Regions from separate parts of the Homo sapiens genome. Here region 2 is linked to region 1. The links come from fine-mapping of genetic effects on gene expression. A gene starts in region 1. The other region holds a variant in brackets. All regions are shown on one strand. Distances are between the middles of the regions.

Region 1 (10,546 bases):
GCTGAAGTGACGGTCCCGCTGCCAGGAGCCGCTTCACTGAGGGTGAAACAATGTAGCCAAGTGCGGGTCACCTGCGCTGTGGCAGAAGGGACCGAGGACGGTGTGGCCAGAGGACTGGCCTGGGCGGAGAGCGAGGAGGGGGAGCCCACAGCTTCTGGGGGGCAGTGACAGTGCGGGGAAGGGCGAGGTGCAGTGTTGGATGTTTTCGCGGGGATTCTGGGACCAGTGGGAAAGCTGGAGGACAGGCGGCTCTGAAGCACCGAGGAGGGGCCTCGGAAGGGGCGGGGAGGTCTCCTTGACACAGGTGAGGAGACGGAGAACTGGGGGCACCCGGCAGCCCAGGCTTCCTGCCGCGCTCTCACGCCCTCCAGGGCCATGAGACCCTGGCTCCGAGGTGGCGGGCAGGTTCGGGACCCGAGCGCGGCGGGATCGTGCGGTTGCCGGTGGTGCTGGGCCCCATGGAGGCTGCGGTCCAGGAGTTTCGGGTGGGCGGCTAGGCCGAGCTTCTGCAGGCGTGCTGAGCCGCCGCAGTAGGGCCCCAGAGGGGACGAGGAATTAGGCCCAGCCGAACGAGGGGGAGCCACCAGAGGCTGGGCCGGGAGGCACCGCCGCGCTCTGGGGAGCTGCCAGGGTCGGGGCGCCCTCCGAGCGGCTGCCAGGCCCCGCGGGCGGCGGCGAGGCGGCCCTCCGCCCCTTCCCCGCAGGTCGCCCTGCCAGCTTGAGCGGCGGGCGCGGGTGGGGCAGGAGGACGCGGGGCGGGGTGGGGGGCACAGGGGGCCCTCTCTGCAGCGCCCCCGGCCCCCGCGCGCGGAGGCAGGGCCGCCGCAGTCGAGGATTAGCGCGTTCGCGGCCGGCGCTGCGGGATTAACCCGCGTGGACTGGACGCCCGGCCCGGGGATTACTGCGCGCTCCCTCCCCGACGTATATATTCCCGCGGCGGCGGCGCCCCGGCCGGGCCGGGCATGGCGGCAGCGGCTGGGGGCGCGGCGAGCCGCCGGGGTGCCGGGCGGCCCTGCCCCTTCTCCATCGAGCACATCCTCTCCAGCCTGCCCGAGCGGAGCCTCCCGGCCCGGGCCGCCTGCCCACCGCAGCCCGCCGGTCGCCAGAGCCCCGCGAAGCCAGAGGAGCCCGGGGCGCCCGAGGCTGCGCCCTGCGCCTGCTGCTGCTGCTGCGGCCCCCGCGCGGCGCCCTGCGGGCCCCCAGAGGCGGCCGCCGGGCTGGGTGAGTGGGCGCGGAGCGGGGCGCGGGGCCCGGCGGAGCCCGGGGCGCGGCGCAGTGGGTGCCGAGCTTGGCCCCAGCCCCGCGCCTCACCGCGCCCTCGCTCCGCAGGCGCTCGTCTGGCGTGGCCGCTGAGGCTGGGACCGGCGGTGCCCTTGTCTCTGGGTGCGCCAGCCGGAGGTTCCGGGGCGCTCCCGGGCGCGGTCGGCCCGGGTTCGCAGCGGCGCACGAGGCGCCACCGCACCATCTTCAGCGAAGAGCAGCTGCAGGCGCTCGAGGCGCTTTTCGTGCAGAACCAGTATCCTGACGTGAGTACGCGCGAGCGCCTGGCCGGCCGCATCCGCCTTCGCGAGGAGCGCGTGGAGGTGAGTGCCCCGCCCAGCCTTTCCCCGGAGCGCGCGGGCCGCGGCTACACTGGACTGGGGTCCTGGCGGGCGGGCGCCCTTTGCAAAGACGGCCTCGGCCCAAGCCCCGCCCTGGCGCGCCGGAGGGAGGAGGTCCCTGGACGGCGCTGGGCGTCCGGGGGTATGAGGAGCGGGTGAGAGCAGGGAGGTGCCGCGGGAAAGGAACCGGAGGGCTACTTTTCTTTTCTTTTGTTTTACACTTTCCTCTGGTGACGAAAGAGGCCCGCGTTCACGTCCAGAATTTGGGAAATTCAGAAGAGCCCGCAACCCAAGAAGGGGCGTCCTGGTCGCCGCCAGCTGGAGGCTGGGGCGGGTACTAAGGGGGTTCCCATCTCGCGTCCAGACCCACCGAGTCTGTCCGCAGCGAATAAGGGCAGGTGGCGCGCAGCCGCGGCCCGGGTGTCGGCTCTACAGCGCCGTCCGCCCACATCCCTGTTGCGAAGCTCCCCTCTCGGTCCCTGTGGGACCCTCGGGAGCCGGTGGGACGCAGGACCTGGGGCTAGGGCTGAGCATTCCCCCCATCCCCAGGTCTGGTTCAAGAACCGCCGGGCCAAATGGCGACACCAGAAGCGCGCGTCGGCTTCCGCGAGGCTCCTGCCCGGCGTCAAGAAGTCCCCGAAGGGGAGCTGCTGATGACTCTAGGAGCTGCCCCTGGGCTCGGCCACCCTTTTTGGGATCTTTGGAGTTGGCGCTGAGAGAAGACAGGTCTACCCGAAAAGGAGCTGGGAGAGTACACCGGCCGCCTCCACCCGTCTCCACAGCCCTTGCCTCCTGCAGCTCGTGCTGCCGTGGCGCTGGGGACGGGCCCCCGGTGCTTGGTGTTCCACGGCAGTGGGAGTGGCGAGTCCCTTGGGGGTGGGCTGGGGCATAGAGCAGTTTCCTCAGCTCCCTACCCCCCGAGAGACACTAACTCCACCGCAGGAGGGGAACCACCCCGTATCAACACGGGACCCAGAATCCTACGCAGTGGAGCGTCTCTCCGCACCCTGGGACATGCTGGCCACCCTCTTCTCAATGTGGACATTGACCTAACTTGACCTGGCTCGTCCTCCCCCAGCGGGAGAGGGGATGGGGTTCGTGTCTGTGCAGTCCTGGCGTTGCAGGCTTCCCAGGCCCTGGGCTGGGTCTTGGTATCTGGACCTGTAGAATAAGAAGGTCGCAGGAGCGATTCCAGGAGCCCCTCCACAGTCCCTTCACCTTCGAGCCTCGCGCTGATACTGAGAAACTAGCAACTTCAAATACCACAGAAGCCGCCCAGAGTCTCAAGTCCACCTTGGCTCCACTCCCACACCCAACAAGGAGCTGTCCCTTCTTCTTCCTTCCCAGCGAGGGGGTATTTAGGGTACAGCTGTCTTTGAGAGGAGCACAGCTCAGCGATCCTCAGTCTCTGCACCAGGGTGCTCCCCAGCAGAGGGGACTGCTCCACGGATGGTGGCCTTGGACCCCTGGGGTCCAGCCCTGGCCTCTAGGCTACTGTGAACCTGCCCATGGGTGAGGGTCCCCTGCTTCCTCCTGGGGTTTTCATGCTGTGGGCTCGGACTCCCTCACAGCAATCTGTGCCATCCTAGGGTAGGGCAAGAGGAGGTTGGACTGGGGAGACCCCGCCCCTGCTGCCTGGGAAGATGCCTGCCCTCCCCTTCTTTATCCTGGCCCATGGCAAAAGGCACAGTGGAAAGAAGCCTTAGATTCCCCAAGTAGGCCCTACAGTGGGTCCAAAGCATCTCACATCCCCACCCCCAGCTGGCTTGAGCACCTCGTTCTGTCTCCTTACAGGCCCTGCAGGGAATGGGGCCATTCTACCTGCAAGAGATGAAGTCCATCTCTAAAAGCAGGACTGCAGAAGCCAGGGCTGCAGCTCCCCAGACACCCCAAGGCTGGCCAGCTTGGATAACACCAAGCAAGCATGGTGTCCCCAGTCAGAACTGCCCTGACACTGCTGGGTGTCCCTAGCATCCCCGCCTCCACCCCTAGCATGCACACAAAGCCCTTCTCCCTGAACCCTGGTCTTGCCCTTGGGGACTGAACAGACTACCTGTGGACATGCCCGTGTCCCAGTCAGCTCCCTTGCAGCTGGGGACACTCGCATCTCACAGGCTCCAGGCCCCTTGAGTTCCTTGGTTGAATGGCCATCTGTCATTGTTTTGGGAGCCCCGATCAGAGCTTGTGGAGCGCCACCTTCCAGGGCTCAGTGGCTGTGTTGCTCTCCTGAATTTGCTTCTTGAGCTCTAGCTGCTCCTTGGCAGGCTGACCCCCCACAGCAGGCTATTAACATAGGCATCCTTCACGCTCACACCCAGGCGCTCGCTTCTCATCTTCACCCTCTTCCCGGTTTATCTTTTACCCTCAGACTCCAATTCCCATCTTTCTGCCACATTTACATCTCAAGCCAGGCACTTCCCCTGAGCCAGGTATTTATCTCCAGCTGTCCCCTTGAAGCCCACAGACTCCTTAAGGTCACCTTGTCCACAGTGAGCTCTTCTGTGCAAACCAGGCACATGAGCCAGAGAGCTAGCCGCCCACCCGAAACTGGTCCCTGGACCCCTCCCTCTCCTGATCATCCACTATACCCAGGCTGACAGGAAGTCAGTTTTACTGTTTATCAATAAATCAATAAATCCCAGAATCTCTCCAGCTCTAACTGCACCAGTCTGATGTAAGCCACCGTCACCTCTCACCTTGACCACTGCAACTGTCTCTAATCTTGTCCACCTGCACCACACTGGCTCTGCTTTTTTGTTTGTCGGTTGGTTTGAGACAAGGTCTCGCTCCATCACCCAAGCTGGAGTGTAGTGGTGCAATCATGGCTCACTATAGCCTCCAGCTCCTGGGCTCAAGCGATCCTCCCCCATCAGCCTTCTGAGTAGCTAGGACCACAGGTGGGCACCACCACACCCGACTAACTTGAAAAGTTTTTTGTAGAGATGAGGTCTTGCCATGTTGGCCAGGCTGGTCTCAAACTTCTGACCTCAAACTATCCGCCGGCCTAGGCCTTCCAAAGTGCTGGGATTATAGGCATGAGCCACTGTGCCTGGCCTGCCCCTTCAATTCAGAATGAAGACAAACCACCTCACCATACCCTACAAGGCCCTGTGCAGCCTGGCCCTGCCTCTCTGGCATCATCTCACACCTCACTGCACTCTGCATTTCCAAAGGACTTCTTTAGAACTTGCCTTGCTCCCTCCCACCACTAGGCCTTTGCACATGCTCTTTCCACCTGACTGTTGCCGGTTTGTTCGTCTTTTGAATCTGCAATCACTTTCTGCCTGGGGAAGCTTCTCTGACCTCCCGAACTAGGTCAAGATTCCCCAAGTACAAACTCTTTTCTTGCACGGACACAGCTGCAATTTTACACCTGTTTGTGTGATGATCTAACAAGTGTCTCTGTCTTCCCCATTGCACTGTCACTTCTACAAGGGCAGCAGCAGCACGCTGCACTTCAGTGAATGAAGGTATCCCTGTATGTTGCAAAAGCAAAATTGTATTAAATTGTTCCAGGGCGGAATTTATTTGTCCAACACAATTCACATCTTTCGTTTGGGAAGAAATTCCTTAAAAATGCCGAGGCAATTTTCTGGTTCACTTGAATATTAATTTTTTTTTTTCTTGACAGAGTTTCACTCTGTCACCCAGGCTGTAGTGCAGTGGCACAATCTCTGCTCACTGCAGTTTCCACCTCCTGGGTTTGAGTGATTTTCCTGCCTCAGCCTCCCAAGTAGCTGGGACTACAGGCACCTACCACCACTTTGTATTTTTTTTTTTTTTTAGTAGAGTTGGGGTTTCACCATGTTGGCCAGGCTGGTCTCAATCTCCTGACTTCAAGTGATCCACCTGCCTGGGTCTCCCAAAGTGCTGAGGTTACAGGCGTGAGCCACCGTGCCTGGTCTTGAATGAGAATGATCCCTCTTCTGGGAAGCCCACTCTGGCATTTGGGGGCCCAATAATCTTTTTTTTTTTTTTGACAGAGTTTTGCTCTTGTTACCCAGGCTGGAGTGCAATGGTGCAATCTCAGCTCACTGCAACCTCCGCCTCCTGGGTTCAAGCAATTCTCCAGCCTCAGCCTTCCGAGTAGCTGGGATTACAGGCGTCCACCACCATGCCCAGCTAATTTTTTTGTGTGTTTTTAGTAGAGATGGGGTTTCATCTTGTTGGCCAGGCTGGTCTAGAACTCCTGACCTCAGGTGATCCGCCTGTCTTGGCCTCTCAAAGTTCTGGGATTACAGAATAATCTTTAGACATTTCTTAATCGAACCACTGTCTTGTTCTTTCACCTTTTGTTAGATAACTATAAAAAAAAAAAAAAGATTGTTTTGGCCGGGTGCGGTGGCTCACGCCTGTAATCCAGAGACCAGCCTGACCAACATAGAGAAACCCTGTCTCTACTAAAAATGCAAAATTAGCCGGGCGTGGTGGCCCATGCCTGTAATCCCAGCTACTCGGGAGGCTGAGGCAGGAGAATCCCTTGAACCCGGGAACTCCGGTGAGCCGAGATCATGCCATTGCACTCCAGCCTGGGCAACAAGACCGAAACTCCGTCTCAAAAAAAAAATTGTTTTAAGGCCCTTTTCTTGCATAAAGCTTGAAACTCCTATATAAGTAAATTTCCTGGTTTGTATTTTTGTAGAATAATCTCGAAGCATACATAGTTCTTATTTGTGGGAAATTAGAATTCTAAGGCCTTTGGACGCTGCAAAGCCAGAATTTCTCGCGTGAAGAACACGCCCTATAGCATCCTCCCCGCCACCTCCACAGCACCCCCTCGTGTTCACAGCATTGACAAGCATGAATAGCGCGGGGCAGGACAAGGACTACATTTCCAATAAAGTCTAGCATTTATAGTGACGTCAGAACGGAGCGCGGGCTGGCTTTCTAGAGCCACAGCTTTTCCATTGGCCAACTATTGGAGGCGCCTGCGCAAATGGTGCAGTCCCGCCCCCTCCACCCTGTGACGCGCCTGCTGGGCCCGAGCTTTTTCCTGGGATAGCGATGGAGACGCCGGGCGCATCAGCGTCGTCCTTGTTGCTTCCCGCCGCGTCCAGGCCCCCGAGGAAGCGCGAGGCGGGAGAGGCTGGGGCTGCGACGAGCAAGCAGCGGGTCCTGGACGAGGAAGAGTATATCGAGGTACGACCTCGGTGCGGACGCCGGCGACTTCTGGGCCCATCCTCTGCTTCAAGCTCCTCTCAGGTTCCCTCTCTCGGGTGTTGACACTCCGTCTCCTCGTGGAAGTGGAGGAGCCGGGTGTGGACGGTCCCACGAGTCAAGTAAACAGGGCAGAGGAAGACGTCTGTGGTGGAAGAGGCTGTAGTAGTGTTGTCAGGGAAAAGAGAGAGCGGCTCTCTTTGTATGGGACGGGGGTCAGGGAAAGAAGATTTTCTGTTAAAGTGTGAGTAGGAGTTTGACAAACTGGAAGGATGGTGGCAAAGAGGGCTTTCTAAAGAGCGGTGGCAGCAAGTGTGAATGCTGGGGTTCCTGGAAAGAGACCGCAGTTGTGACAGCATCTCGAGTGAGTGGACCTGCGTCGCCCCACCACACGCACACAGAAGGAGGAGCTGAAACGGGGATTGGCGGAAGTCAGTTTGGTTTTAGACCTGTTTAATTCGGGACACCTTTTGGGATATGTAGATGGATGGCTTTAACGGACGGTTGGGTGCCCAGATATGCAGCTCGGGAGCAAGGTCTGGCTGGAGGTGCAGACTTGGGAATCTCAACTTGTGGTAGTGACTGGCTGAAGTTACTCAGGAAAAAGGTTTATTTTTATTTTATTTTTTGAGACGGAGTCTCGCTCGTCGTCCAGGCTGGAGTGCAGTGGCGCGATCTCGGCTTACTGTAACCAACCTCTGCCTCCTGGGTTCAAGCCATTCTCCTGCCTCAGCCTGCCGAGTAGCTGTGACTACAGGTGCCCGCCACCACGCCCGGCTAATTTTTGTATTTTTAGTAGTGGTGGGGTTTCACCATGTTGGCCAGGCTGGTCTCGAACTCCTGACCTCAGGTGATCCGCCCGCCTTGGCCTCTCAAAGTGCTGGGATTACAGGCGTGAGCTACCATGCCCCGCCAGGAGAAAGGTTTAGATTGGAAATAGAAAGTCATGTGTGGAATGAAAGTGACAACACCCACATTGGTCTGGCTTGTGGGGAGCCAGCAATGGAGAATGAGAATGACCAGTTAGCAAGGGCGAGAGAGAAGGGTTTCACGGACTTCAGAAGAGTGTTTAGTAATGTTAGAGGTTGCAGCATGGCTACCATATGGGATGCTCAACCCCACTAGAAAGTGCCCTCAAGCTCCCTCAATCCAGCCCCAGTCATTGGGGAAGTAGAATTTGAAGGAGGTTCAGCAAGTTCCTTAGCATGTACAGCAGTGGACCTGTGAGGCAGGAGCACCCAGACTGCAGCTCCGACTTTCTTTTTTCTTTTTTTTTTTTTTTTTTGAGACGGTCTCGCTCTGTCGCCCAGGCTGGAGTGCAGGGGTGTGATCTTGGCTCACTGCAACCTCCGCCTCCCGAGTTTAAGCGATTCTTCTGCTTCAGCCTCCCACGTAGCTGGAATTACAGGTGCCTGCCACCACGCCCGGCTAATTTTTGTATTTCTAGTAGAGACTGGGTTTCACCATGTTGGCCAGGCTGGTCTTGAACTTCTGACCTCATGATCCACCTCCCTTGGCCTCCCAAAGTGTTGGGATTACAGGTGTGAGCCACCGCGCCTGGCCTCTGACTTTCATTCTGATCTCTCCTTGCAGGGCCTCCAGACGGTCATCCAAAGGGATTTCTTTCCTGATGTGGAGAAGCTCCAGGCACAGAAGGAGTACCTGGAAGCCGAGGAGAATGGAGACTTGGAACGGATGCGCCAGATTGCCATCAAGTTTGGCTCTGCCTTGGGCAAGATGTCCCGGGAGCCCCCGCCACCCTGTATGAGGACCCTGTGGGTGGCGGAGAGGGGAAAGCCTGCTGAACTGTCGCTTCAGGCTCACTCTAATTCTTATCCCCCTCTCTTCCCCTAGATGTGACTCCAGCCACATTTGAAACCCCTGAGGTGCATGCAGGCACTGGAGTGGTGGGCAACAAGCCCAGGCCCCGCGGCCGAGGCCTGGAGGATGGTGAGTGAGGGTGCCCTCTTTAAGTCACATGGTCAGGATTGCCTGGGAATCTTAGCCTGTGAGGCCCTGAGGGGGTGGTCCAGAGGGCTGCAGGCCACATCTTGTTCCTGAGGGGTCTTGCGTAAATAGCAGCCTGTGAAGTCAAAGGACATTGGTCTAGGTGGTAGAACATCTGGGTCCAGCTCCCACACATGGCTCGCCTCTGTGAAATGGGACTCTCACCAGCTCTTGCTGGCTTTTCTGCTGTGTTCCAGCCCTGCCCTGTGGGCTTCATGGATGTTGGAAGGCCCCTTTTGTTACTATCCTGAAGATGCCTCAGGGCCTCTCCATTTGTTTCCTTCATGTTGGTCACTTCCCAGATAACTGCATGGCTCACTGTGTTTCTTCCTGTAGATCTCTGCATAGGTGTTACCTGTTCAGAGAAACTTTTCTTGACCTGCCAGTGTGAAGTCACAACACCACTGGTGCTCTGTGGCTTCCAGCCTGGCTTTGGTTTTTCATCACAAGACATTTTATTTTATTTAATTTCATTTTATTTTTAATTTTTTGACACAGAGTCTCGCTCTGTCACCCAGGCTGGAGTAAAATGGTGTGATCCCGGCTCACTGCAACCTCCACCTCCCAGGTTCAAGCAATTCTCCCTGCCTTAGCCTCCCAAATAGCTGGGATTACAGGCGCCTGCCACCACTCCTGGCTAATTTTTGTATTTTGTAGTAGAGACGAGGTTTTGCCATGTTGTCCCGGCTAGTCTTGAACTCCTGACCTCAGGTGATCTGTCTGCCTCGGCCCCCCAAAGTGCTGGTATTACAGGTGTGAGCCACCGCGCCTGGCCAAGACATAACGTTTTAAAGGCATTTCTGTTTATGGTCTCTTTCCCTAATTGGCATCCCTTGCACAAGAGCAGAAGCTTTGTTTTGCTTTCATCTGTATGCTCCGTGTTGGGAACAGCACATGTGGTGTTGTGGGCCTTGCACAGATACACATGGAACAGATGAAAGAGTTGTCATCTTCAGCATGTTTGCTGGGACACACAGCTCTATATGGTAACATCGTGACTTGATGGGGGAGTCGGTTTAGGAAAGGGCACTCCGAGTCCTGTTGAATGCAAGTGTTCTGCACGCCATGGGACTTCTGCGTTGTCAGGCCCTCTTTTCATCAGTAGTAGAATGTCAGTGCATGTATAGACAAACGAGACACTCTTTCTTATCAGTTTGTAGACTCCACTGTGCTGGAGTAGCACAGATGTGTTGTGTGTTTGCACAAACATGCAAACATGATACTTTTTGCTTTACAATCCAGCTTTTTCGGCCATTAACACAGTCCTTGTTGTCCTTGAAGCTTGATTATCTGTTGAAATGTAGCTTGTGCATCACAGGGCAATTTGTAGATTTTTTTCTTCTCCTTTTTTTTTTTTTTCCTATAGAGATGAGGTTTCATTATGTTGCCCAGGCTGGTTTTAAACTTCTGAGCTCAAGTGATCCTCCCACCTTGGCCTCCCGAAGTGCTAGGATTACAAGTGTGAGCCATCATGCCTAGCCAGTTTGCAGATTTTCAATACCTGTACACCTACATGCCAGTAAATATAGGAATCCTTTTCAGAACCTAAGTGGTAGGAACCATCATCATGTTTACAGGTGAGGAAACTGAGGCTCAGAAAGGCAGTCACTTCTGCAGGTCTCAGAGATGGTCAGGGTTTCACTTCTTATCTCTCTGAGATGAATAGAGTTTCTGACCCCTGTCCTCATCCCGTGGGTCTTGAGCTTGTAGCCACTGTGCCTTGTGCATAGCCTCACGTGTAGCAGGTGGTCAGGACTGTCACTAGACTTGAAGGCAGAGCT
Region 2 (10,546 bases), 30 kb after region 1:
GTATCACTTGCCCACGGTACTTTTAGTAGCCTTCGAATGTTATTTTATTTTTTTTTAAAGTCAGCAGAAAAAAAATGAACTTTTAGGTCAAATAAAATGTTTTCGTATGTATATTAATACAGTCATCTTTATACTAATACAGTGAAAAAGCATGACTCTTAATATTTCTTAATGGAGGAAAGGTCCCATGAAGGCAGAAGTGCCAGGGCCATCTTCTCTGATGACCTGGGTGTGGGAGCACGGGGTGTGTGGCCCTCTCCTGTGCCCTAGCCAGGCTCCCAGCCCAGATACACCGCACCTCTTGGCTCTGCGCTTGTGTCATCTATGTGGAATGTCTGCCTCCTCCCTAGTGCCTGCCTGGTGGCCAAGGCCCTGACCGGTGCTCAACCTGGACAGATTCAGTGATGCTTCTCTGGTCTCCCCATGTAGAGCTAGTTGCTCACTGCTTTTGGCTGCTCTCTGGGCAGCGGGATGACTAGTTGTGGGGTGGCCTTGGTAAGAACAGAAGCCAGGAAAAGGGCTACCTGTGGAGGAGGGTATCATATAGGCTCTTGGAGGTCAGAACCAATGGGTTTGTGGATTCTTGTGATTAACTTCTTTAGAAAACATATATGTACGTGTAGAGAGGTAGAAGGTCACCGTTTTCTGATTCTTGAGTCCCAGTTTTGCAGATGAGGTCACCGGGCTCAGGTGAGGCCATATTATGCCTGGCTTCTTTGGGGTGCCTCTGGTTCCAGGCCCAGCATCTCCTGCCTGGGTGATAGAGGTGACTGACGTCCCCGACTCCTTTTTCCTTGCCAGCCTTTTCACATAGCCTGCCAACTGGCCAGCAGCAACTGAGAAAGTGCCTGTGGGTGCTTGCCCCCTGCCCATCCCTAGGGAATCCAAGTGACAAGAACAAGCCCCTCCTTTTAGGAGTGCCTGATGTGGAACAGAGGCCAGGTGTAAGTCACTTGTCACACTCCTGTGTGTTGAATACCCTGGAGTGTGGGGTCCCAGAGGTGGGTGGAGGTGGCCATCTTTTTGTACCTGTGAAGCAGTGAGGGCGTCACAGGAGACCTCACACTGAGGTCGGAGTAGGGCATGGGTGGGGTGGATCTGGTAGAGGGAGCAAACTTATTCTTTCGATTCCATGACTCTCCAGATGAGAACATTGCAGCTACCCCTGGAGGCGTCTTGAGTTGCCCTGCAGAACCCGGGAGCTGCAGCTGGCTTCCTGGCTTTGGCTGGGCAGGGAGGGCAGGCCTCTGGGCCTGATGTGTTCCTTGTATGCCCGTGTGTGCCTCTTCACACATTCACCATGTGTCCTTCCTGAGAGTGCTGCAGGGATCTGCCTGGCTGGTGCTTGCAAGAGGCTGGGGCTTCTCTGGTCTTAGTCTGCGTTCTTTCTGTGGGGATTCCGGCCTTAAAAGCATACTTGAGTATGAGGAAGGTATCAGTCAGAGCCCACTTCTCAGGAGGGTGTTTTCTGACTCCTGCCTGGTGGGGTCCCTGAAGATGATGCCAAGCCACCTGGGCTTCCTCTCTGGTACAGGGCAGGGTGGAAGGCCTTTCATGGAGTTATGGGGCAGCAAGTGCTTGCTGTACTTGACCTTTCACCAATTTTTTTTTTTTTTTTTTTTTTGAGACAGAGTCCTGCTCTGTTGCTCAGGCTGGAGTGCAGTAGCGTGATCTTGGCCCACTGCAACCTCCACCTCCTTGGTTCAAGCGATTCTCCTGCCTCAGCCTCCCGAGTAGCTGGGATTACAGGCATACGCCTCCACGCTCGGCTAATTTTTGTATTTTTAGTAGAGATGGGGTTTTGCCATGTTGGCCGGGCTGGTCTGGAACTCCTGACCTCTGGTGAGCCACCTGCCTTGGCCTCCCAAAGTGCTGGAATTACAGGCCTGAGGTACCATGCCCAGCAATTTTTTTTTAAGTGCACATTTGAACTTGATTTAAGATGTGTCATGTGCCGGACACTGTTCTAAGCACTAACATATGTTAACTCTCAAGAGGTCCCTGCTAGATGCTGTTTTTAGCCTCATTTAAAGATGGGGAAGCTGAAATCCAGAGCACTCATGAAGCTAAGGCTGAGATGAGATTTCATCGTAGGAGTCTGGCCTTCCCCCCATCATGCACCCGTGACTGGGGTCTGTGCACTCCAACTGTGTGTCTCCAGCCCAGCCACAGGAGTACCTCATATTATGCTCTGAACAGCTTCCTTAACCCCAGGTGGAGCCACAGACTGCCTCTGTCCCCTGTTAGGTCCCAGGGTCCTCTAGGTGAGGGTGCAGAATCTTTTTCCATGTGGATACTCCAGTCTGAGGGACAGAACCACTCACCCTCTGCCAAATCCCTTCTGTGTTTGGCCATGTGACCACTGATGATGTGTGTTATGATCACTGGGGGTGTGATGAGGAAGAACGGTTGGAGACTACTGCTGAGGTAACTGACAGCGAGATGGTGGGGGGATTTGGGGACCACTGATTGTGATACTGTCTCATTGGCCCTTTCTCCATCTGTGTAGAGAAGGCAGCATCGACTGCTGATTCTAAAACTGTTTTTCTTTCTAGCTTTAATTGTGAAACAAAATTATATCATGAGCCACAGCTCTATCCAGGTTGAACCCACCATACATAGCTGAGAAAAAATTGCCTTCTGAATGCTGGTGCACCCTGGTCCCTTCCTGCTGGTTGTTGGTCCTGTACAGGGCCTGTGCTCAGCTAGGCCCCTTGGTAAGGTAGAGGACTAGAAGGTCGTCTTCCTTCTATTGTTGGTACAGCTAGCTGGGAGAGGCAAGTGACTTGTCTAAGGTCACACAGCTGGTGAGCAGCAGAGCGTGGGTTCAGACCCAGGTGGAGCTGGCTGCTAGCTCAGGGTTCTTTCTCTTTTGCTTTCAGTAGGCAGCTGTGCTGAGCTGATCACATCTCAGGGAGCTGAGAAGTGAACACAGCACCTTGGCTCTGGAGTCCAGAGTTGTTTTTTTTTTTTTTTTTTTTTTTTGTTTGCGATGGAGTTTCTGTCTGTCACCCAGGCTGGAGTGCAGTTGCGGGATCTCAGCTCACTGTAACCTCCACCTCCTGGGTTCAAGTAATTCTCCTGTGTCAGCCTCCAGAGTAACTTTGATTACGGCGCACGCCACCATGCTGGGATAATTTTGTATTTTTAGTAGAGACGGGGTTTCACCATGTTGGCCATGTAGGCTGGTCTCAAACTCCTGGGCTCAAGTGATCCACCTGCTTTGGCCTCCCAAAGTTACGGGATTGCAGGTGTGAGCCACCTCTCCCCGGCTGGAGTCCAGAGTTTTCTTTCATGTGAAGTAGCACAGGGGTTTGGTGCATAGGGAGAGAGTGCATATTTTCATCACAAGGAAAAGTGACCGAGGTTCAGAAGTAGCTGGAGAGGTGAGCTTGCACCTAGCCTTGCCAAATCCTCCTGAGTTTGGAGTGCTTTCCTCTGTAGCCAGTACTGTGACACTTTGTAGAGTTTGTCCACTGGTAGATTTGGCTTTTGGGTTAACAGGTTCATTTTTTTTAGTTGGAAAGTGATGTAATATACTTTCTACCTTCACTAGCTAATGAATTTTCCTTTTTTTTCTTGACAAAAAGAAAACTTTTATTTGGAAATAATTTCAAACTCCCGGAAAAGTTGCAAGAGTAAAGTGAGTGCAGAGAACACCTGCATATCCTTTGCTGAGGCTTCCCTACTGTTGGCATTTTACCTTATTTGCCTTATCCCTCATCTTCCATGTGTATGTGCATATCTGTGTACTCACACACATTGCTTTTTTCTGAACCATTTGAGAATAAGTTGTATGCGCCATGGCCGTTTATCCTTGTACATGTTAACCATTGCAGAGAGTAGAGGCTGCTCCCACTTAACCCCACCCCATCGTTCTCACTAACACCTGCTATGTGCCAAGCCCTGTGTCACGTGGGAAGGTCTCATGGGTGCAGGAAGCCCTGTAGTTAAAGCCCAGGTTGGCCCAGGTGGAGGCAAGCTGGCATCACTGCATGTCAGGGTTATTGTTTTAGTTGGCGGTTCTGGGTTTAGGAATGAAGACTGCTGTTGTGGAAGATTTGTGCTGTGTTAGGCTGCGCCTTCGCTGCTCCACTTCCCAAGCTAGCTTGTGGGCACTTTCCCCACCCCTTCCTTCCCACTTCCCAGAGTACTGAGTGATTATATCCTCTTAGCAGCGGTGGCCGGTGATTTGTTTGTGCAGGTGTCCTTCTAGCAGTGACGGCAGGTAATCTTGTTACGCACAGATCCTCTTAGCAGTAATGGGAGGTGAGTGATCTGTGTGTGTCCTCTTAGCAGTAAGGGCAGGTGATCTAGCTGTGCACGTGTCCTCTTAGCCATGGTGGGAGGTGATCTGGTTGTGCAGGTGTCCTCTTAGCAGTGATGGGAGGTGATGGGAGGTGATCTCATTATGCATGTTTCCTCTTAGCAGTAGTGGCAGGTGATCCGGTTGTGTGCATGTCCTCTCAGCAGTGATGACAGGTGATCTAGTAGTGCATGCATCCTCTCAACACTGATGGCAGGTGATCTAGTTATTGACTCTCTCCTGCTGGACCTGAGCCTTTGACAGGCAGGGAGTTCCTCTGCCTCTCTTGGTTGTTGGCATAAGGACGACCCGATTGGCATTTAGTAGTTTCTTGACTCTAAGTGGAATGCATCAGTGACAACATTTAAGGACCCCGTAGATAGCTCTTGACTGATTAGATGTCTTTTCCTTGGTATGCTATTAGATTTTCTCTTATGTGCTGTTATGTTTGGGTGCTGAGGTTTTGATGACCGTCCTCTTTCCTTTCTTTCACTGCCAGTCTGCAGAGTGGGCTCGGTAATCCCGAGAGACCAGTTTTGGGCCAACAGTTCATTGAGCAGAGTGATGCATGGGCTTGGGTATGGTTATTATGTGATAGCTGTGTAACACCTGTATTTGTGTTTCTGACATGATTTACCAGTTGTCCTGGGAAGTTTAGTCAAAGCCAGTCCATCTCATCCTGCCATTCCAAGCTGTGTGTCCTGTCAGTGTGGACATGGCGGGCTTGGCAGGGCAAGTCTAGGTTGGAGGGTGAATAGCCTGTGGACCCAGATGCCCTGGACCTTCTGGGCATCCTCCTGGGAGATGGGGAAGCTCAGGTCTGGTTTTGCCTCAAATGAGCTGTCTGTAAAAGTAGCAGCTGGGATTAGATCAAGCCTTCTCATCCTGGCCCATGGCAGGCAGTTGGGTATGGTGGCTTAAGAGCATGGGCTCTAGAGCCACACTGCCTAGGCTCAATCTGTTCTACTGCTCACTCTTCAGTTTCCTCATTTGGAACATGGACATCGTAACAGAGCTTTATAGAGATGTTGTGAGGATTAAAATGGGTAAGTATAAAATTCTAAAAAGTGTCTGACATAAAGCAAACTCTTCATCAGGCAAAATGTTAGTGTTAATCACAGATAGAGTTCAGGAACCCTGAACTGAAATGTGAAATGTGAGGTGGTTTGTGCACAGGGCTTATTGGTCGGGAGAGAGCTCCCTCAGGAGGTGGCAGAGTACAGTGGCTCTGAGGAGTGTCTGCCACACAGAGAGTGCTCTTTGCTGTTATGATGGGATCAGAGGGACTGCGTATGACTTGCTGAGAGCCCCCGAAACAGCCATGGTGCTTTGGACAGGGCTGGGATTGTTCATACACGTTTTGCTCTTTGTCACATTCATGCTCTGTCACCTGGGCCTGGTCAGGCACAGACTGGGCACTCAGAAATCAGTTATTGAACAAATGCACAAATGCCTATTTATATTTTGACATAAAGAGCAACAGCTACTTTAGCCAGCAGGCCTTGCAGCTGCCTCTGGTGGGGGTGGCGAGGAGGATGAGAGCCTTGTGGCAGTCCTGCAAAAATGCCTTGGGAGGATGGGATCCGGGGGTAGGGGACATGGCTGTGGAGCCAGCTGGCCTGGGCCCCACCCTGGTAGGAGCTTGCTTCTGTGATGGGAGCTGAGCTGAGAGGTGAGAGCAAGTGTGGCTTCTCATTAATGTGGATCCTCACTGAAGCTCACCAGCTGCCCAGCCTGGGGTGGAGGGTTGAGGGGCTCCCAGAGGGAGGGACCCCAGCAAGCCGGTGCTGAGGGAGCTGCCTCTCTGATGGACTTGCTGGCACCTGGCTTTGAGAACTGGACTGCCCTGTGTGAGGATGTGGCTGGACCTTCCCTGGGTTGTTTGCACAGTGCAGGGCTTGTTTCTGGTCAAGAGCTGGCTGGGTGCATGGGCTGCATGGGCTGCACATGCTTGCCTCTTGGCCTTCTCCTCCTCCTCTGCCTG[C/G]GGTAGCTGTTGCTTCAGTCACTCTGAGCTGGTCATTGTTCTTAGTGCCCTTGTCCCCTACAGGTCCCTCCCTGTAGGCTGACTTCTGGCTGACCTCTGGCAAAATGGCAGACAGCTATCAGTTTGGTTAGCTTGTCTTCCTTGGTTAGTCTGTCATCCTTCAGCTGTTGGCTGCTACTGTTGGACAGGACAGTACTGAGGACAGTATTCTGGTGGGTATGGTGGACTAAGGGTCCCCCAGGTAGACCCTGCCCTCTTCCTTGCCTGGGAAGTCTCATTTTCTGGGAAACCTTCCTTAGGAGTTCATAGTTGTGGAGAGGATTGTTTGTGGCTGGCCAGGGCACTGGATGAGGGGCAGGAGTCACAGCAGAGGGACCCAGAAGGTCAACACAGGGATGATCAGCAGGAGACTGACCACAGGACCGGGCCAGATGCTCCATTGAAACTAGGTCTGCTGATGCAGAGGTCTCTCCGGTGCCACTGGCTGCTTCTTAGGGCCTCCAGGTAGATTAGTTTACCTACAGAACTCTGTCTATGGTCTTAGAATAAGAGGACCTGGAAGAGTTAGAGGCTTGTTGGGGGCCATGGCAGGCCTTTGCTGCAGTTCTTGGAGGTTTCTTGGCCACTCCTGACAGTGGGAGCAGCTCTTCGGATTTCCCCATCTACCCTATTTGCGAAGGATGCCTGCTAGACCAGCATGGTAAGCCATGGGGCATGGAGAGAGCCCAAGGGTGTAGAAGATCTTGTCTGGACAATCTAGAAAAAATAAAGTTGATATTTCTTCACATTTGCTAACATTCATACATAGAATATTTTACATAAATGGAATTATATTTTTTATTTAATTTTTGTATTTAACTTATTTTGAGATCTTTGTAGATCAGTGCATATATAACTTCATTCTTTTTTTTTTTTTTCCTTTGGTAACAAAAGATGGAGAGGAAAGGTGGGAATGGGTCGGGGCAAGATTGTCTTAACTCGTTCTTTTTTTTTTTTTTTTTTTTTTTCCTCAAATGGAATCTTGCTTTTGTTGCCCAGGCTGGAGTGCAGTGGTGCAATCTCAGCTCACTGCAACCTCCACTTCCTGGGTTCAAGTGATTATGCTGCCTCAACCTCCCAAGTAGCTGGGATGACAGGCGTCTGCCACCATGCCCGGCTAATTTTTGTATTTTTAGTAGAGATGGGATTTTGCCATGTTGGCTGGGCTGGTCTCAAACTCCCAACCTCAGGTGATCCGTCTGCCTTGGCCTCCCAAAGTGCTGAGATTACAGGCATGAGCCACTGTGCCTGGCCTAACTCATTCTTTTTTAGAAATCTTTTTACTTTGGAAATATTTCAAACCTACATAACAGTAGGTTGACTTGGCAAGTGGAAACCCCTTCACCTGGCCTTTTCAGGATGGGAGCGTGTCGCCTTCTGACATGTTTCCATCAACTTGAAATTCCTTTTTACCAGGCACATCTTGTACCTTACCTGCCCCACACTGGAATGGGGCATTTTCCCACAGAGCGCTGGTTCCTTTTGGTGGGAGATGGTATTTAGAAAGCAGGATTTTGGTGGTAGATGTGTTTATTGCTAGCTACTAGAGTATGCTGCGACTCCATCTTTTCAGTCTAGCCCAAGAGGTGTGTGCATACGTGCATGTGTCTGTGCCTGTGTAAGTTCATACTGTTATTTTTTTTTTTTTATTTTTATTTTTTTGAGACGGAGTCTCGCTCTGTTGCCAGGCTGGAGTGCAGTGGGGTGATCTCGGCTCACTGCAACCTCCGCCTCCCGGGTTCAAGCGATTCTTCTGCCTCAGCCTCCCAAGTAGCTGGAACTACAGGCATGCGCCACCACACCTGGCTAATTTTTGTATTTTTAGTAAAGATGGGGTTTCACCATGTTGGCCAGGATGGTCTCGATCTCTTGACCTCATGATCTGCCTACCTCCACCTCCCAAAGTGCTGGTATTACAGCCGTGAGCCACTGTGCCTGGCCCATACTGTTTCTTTAGTTCTAATCCAGCGTTCCAGGTTCTTGCTTGCTTTCTCTGTTGCATGTTTGTTTCTCTCTTTTTCTACAGTGAGAACCCTGGCTCCCAACAGCATCAGTAGGTTTACTCATTTGCTTAGTCTTACACTGCACCCAGAATAGTTTCAGAAGTACTGCATTCGCACCACTAGTAACAGCAGACCTATTAAGTAGAATTTAATTTAATTTAATTTTTTTTAGCTCTTTGTGTTTTCAGATTGATGGTGTATACTCAAGGTTCTTGGGTTCAAAAGCTACTTGGATTAATTCTCTTCTCTCTTCCATGTGATTGTTACACAGTTAGGTTCAAAACTGTGTTGAGGCAGGGCCGGGTGGTTCACACCTGAAATTCCAGCACTTTGGGAGGCTGAGGTGGGTGGATTGCTTGAGCCCAGAAGTTCTAAACCAGCCTGGGCAATATGGCATCTCTGCAAAAACTACAAAAATTAGCTGGGCATGATGGCACACGCCTGTAGTCCCAGCTACTTGGAGGGGACTGAGGTGGGAGGATCGTTTGAGCCCAGTGAGCAGAGGTTATGGTGAGCTGAGATCATGCCTCTGCACTCCAGCCTAGGCAACAGAGCAAGACCTGCCTCAAAAACCAAAACCAAAAAAAAAACCTGTTTTGATTTGAAACCATGTTTATTAAATAATATTGAGAGTGGTATTTACTGTAACCTCAGTATTTATAACAAGCCCCTCTTTCATTACACTAATTGGTAAGGAAGCATCTCAATTTTGAACGGTTTTATTATTTTCCTAGGTTTTTTTTTTTTTTTTTTAAAAGATGGAGTCTTGCTGTGTCACCTAGGCTGGAGTGCAGTGGTGCGACCTCGGCTCACTGTAACCTCTGCCTCCCGGGTTCAAGCGATTCTCCTGCCTCAGCCTCCCCAGTAGCTGGGACTACAGGTGCGTGCCACCACGCCCAGATAATTTTTGTATTTTTAGTGGAGATGGGGTTTCGCCATGATGGCCAGGCTGGTCTTGAACTCCTGACCTCAGGTGATCCACCCGCCTGCATCTCTGAAAGTGCTGGGATTATAGGCATGAGCCATCATGCTCAGCCAATAAATAGATATTTTAAAAATAATTATTTTTCATTTCTGACAGTCCTGAGCCTTCGTTGATGTACTTTTGTCAAAACTCTTGGTAAATCACTTTTTAAGTTTCAGTTTCTTCCTGGAGACAAAAAAAAATAAATAAATAAAAAATAAAAACAAAAAAGAGTTTAGATGTTCAAGGGCTATTTGGGCCCAAGTGCTGACATTGTGAGCTTGTTGGTTTAACAGGGTCTCATTCCACCAGCCATCACCCTTTGTGTTTCCTCTCCATCCGATAGCTTGGGTTCGTGCTCTGATAGTCTTTGGGTATGCAGTGGTATGGGGGAGCTGTCTGAAGCAGGGGCTGAGGTTGGCCTGGGAGTTTGGGTATAGTTCTACACACCCTTTACCTGACAAGACTCATTGTGGAGGGGTGATCAGTGAGGCAGGTGGTAGGTCTGTTTTGGAGATTAGGATGCTAAGACCCAGAGAGGTTAATTAGCTTGCTTGGTGGCATCACTTAGCTTTTAAGTAGAAGCAAGAACAGGAAACTCAGGACTGCTATCCTGAGCCACATGCTTTGCCTCCTGCACCATGATTCCAAAAGCTGATGAAAGAGCTGTATGGCAGAGGGAGCTAAGTGGAGCGCCACCACCTGGGGCCTCCTGCCTAAGAACCGGGCACCTTTTCACTGAGTTGGGCATCGCTAGTGTTCACAGTTCTGACTGCACCAGCATCTTGTGTGGACACTGATGCTGTGATGTCTCTTTGGGCTTGGGTGATCAATTCAGGCCAGCTGGTGACCACCCTCTGTGATCTCACCACACAGTGATTGCAATCAAATCTACCTGTGTGTTTCCAGAAGCTTGGGAGGCTTATTAGAGTGTCACCTTCTTTTGTATGGACGGACTTTGTGGGTTTTCAACCGTGTGGATGTATTACTTCTTAACAAACATTCATGAAAGTAAAAGATGAGGAAAAGGTATTTTAAAAGGAAAAAAATGTGTATAACTGAATATAAAACATACTACTTAACAGAAAAAATAGATCTAAAATGCTTAGAACCCACAAAAAAGTTAAATGAAATTTTAGCTTAATGCTGTTGCATATTTCTGCTTTATAATTGCAGCATGAGATGTGATGTCTTTTTATAGGAAGTAGGTTTACTCATATTAACCTCATTTTACAGATAGAGAAACAGAG

What was found. PIP is the estimated chance that this variant, and not a neighbour inherited with it, causes the effect.
Region 2: its variant is fine-mapped to the expression of ESS2 in whole blood (INTERVAL, PIP 0.97).

Annotation. Positions count from the first base shown.
Region 1 is chr22:19,140,700-19,151,245 of GRCh38, reverse strand. ESS2 (ess-2 spliceosome associated protein) reads left to right here and starts at 6,595. Exons shown (of 10, transcript NM_022719.3): 1 at 6,595-6,740; 2 at 8,352-8,520; 3 at 8,613-8,708. The coding sequence starts at 6,606. It overlaps GSC2 (goosecoid homeobox 2), which reads left to right and starts at 954. Exons shown (of 3, transcript NM_005315.2): 1 at 954-1,221; 2 at 1,330-1,583; 3 at 2,151-4,253. The coding sequence starts at 963. The coding sequence ends at 2,255. RefSeq lists enhancers at 1,503-2,002, 7,020-7,526.
Region 2 is chr22:19,110,814-19,121,359 of GRCh38, reverse strand. All of the region lies in intron 1 of DGCR2 (DiGeorge syndrome critical region gene 2), which reads left to right. Among named protein-coding and RNA genes, the nearest start is that of DGCR2, 6.3 kb to the left of the region's middle. RefSeq lists enhancers at 6,253-7,147, 10,498-10,546. The variant C/G (reference allele first, on the strand shown) is at 6,291.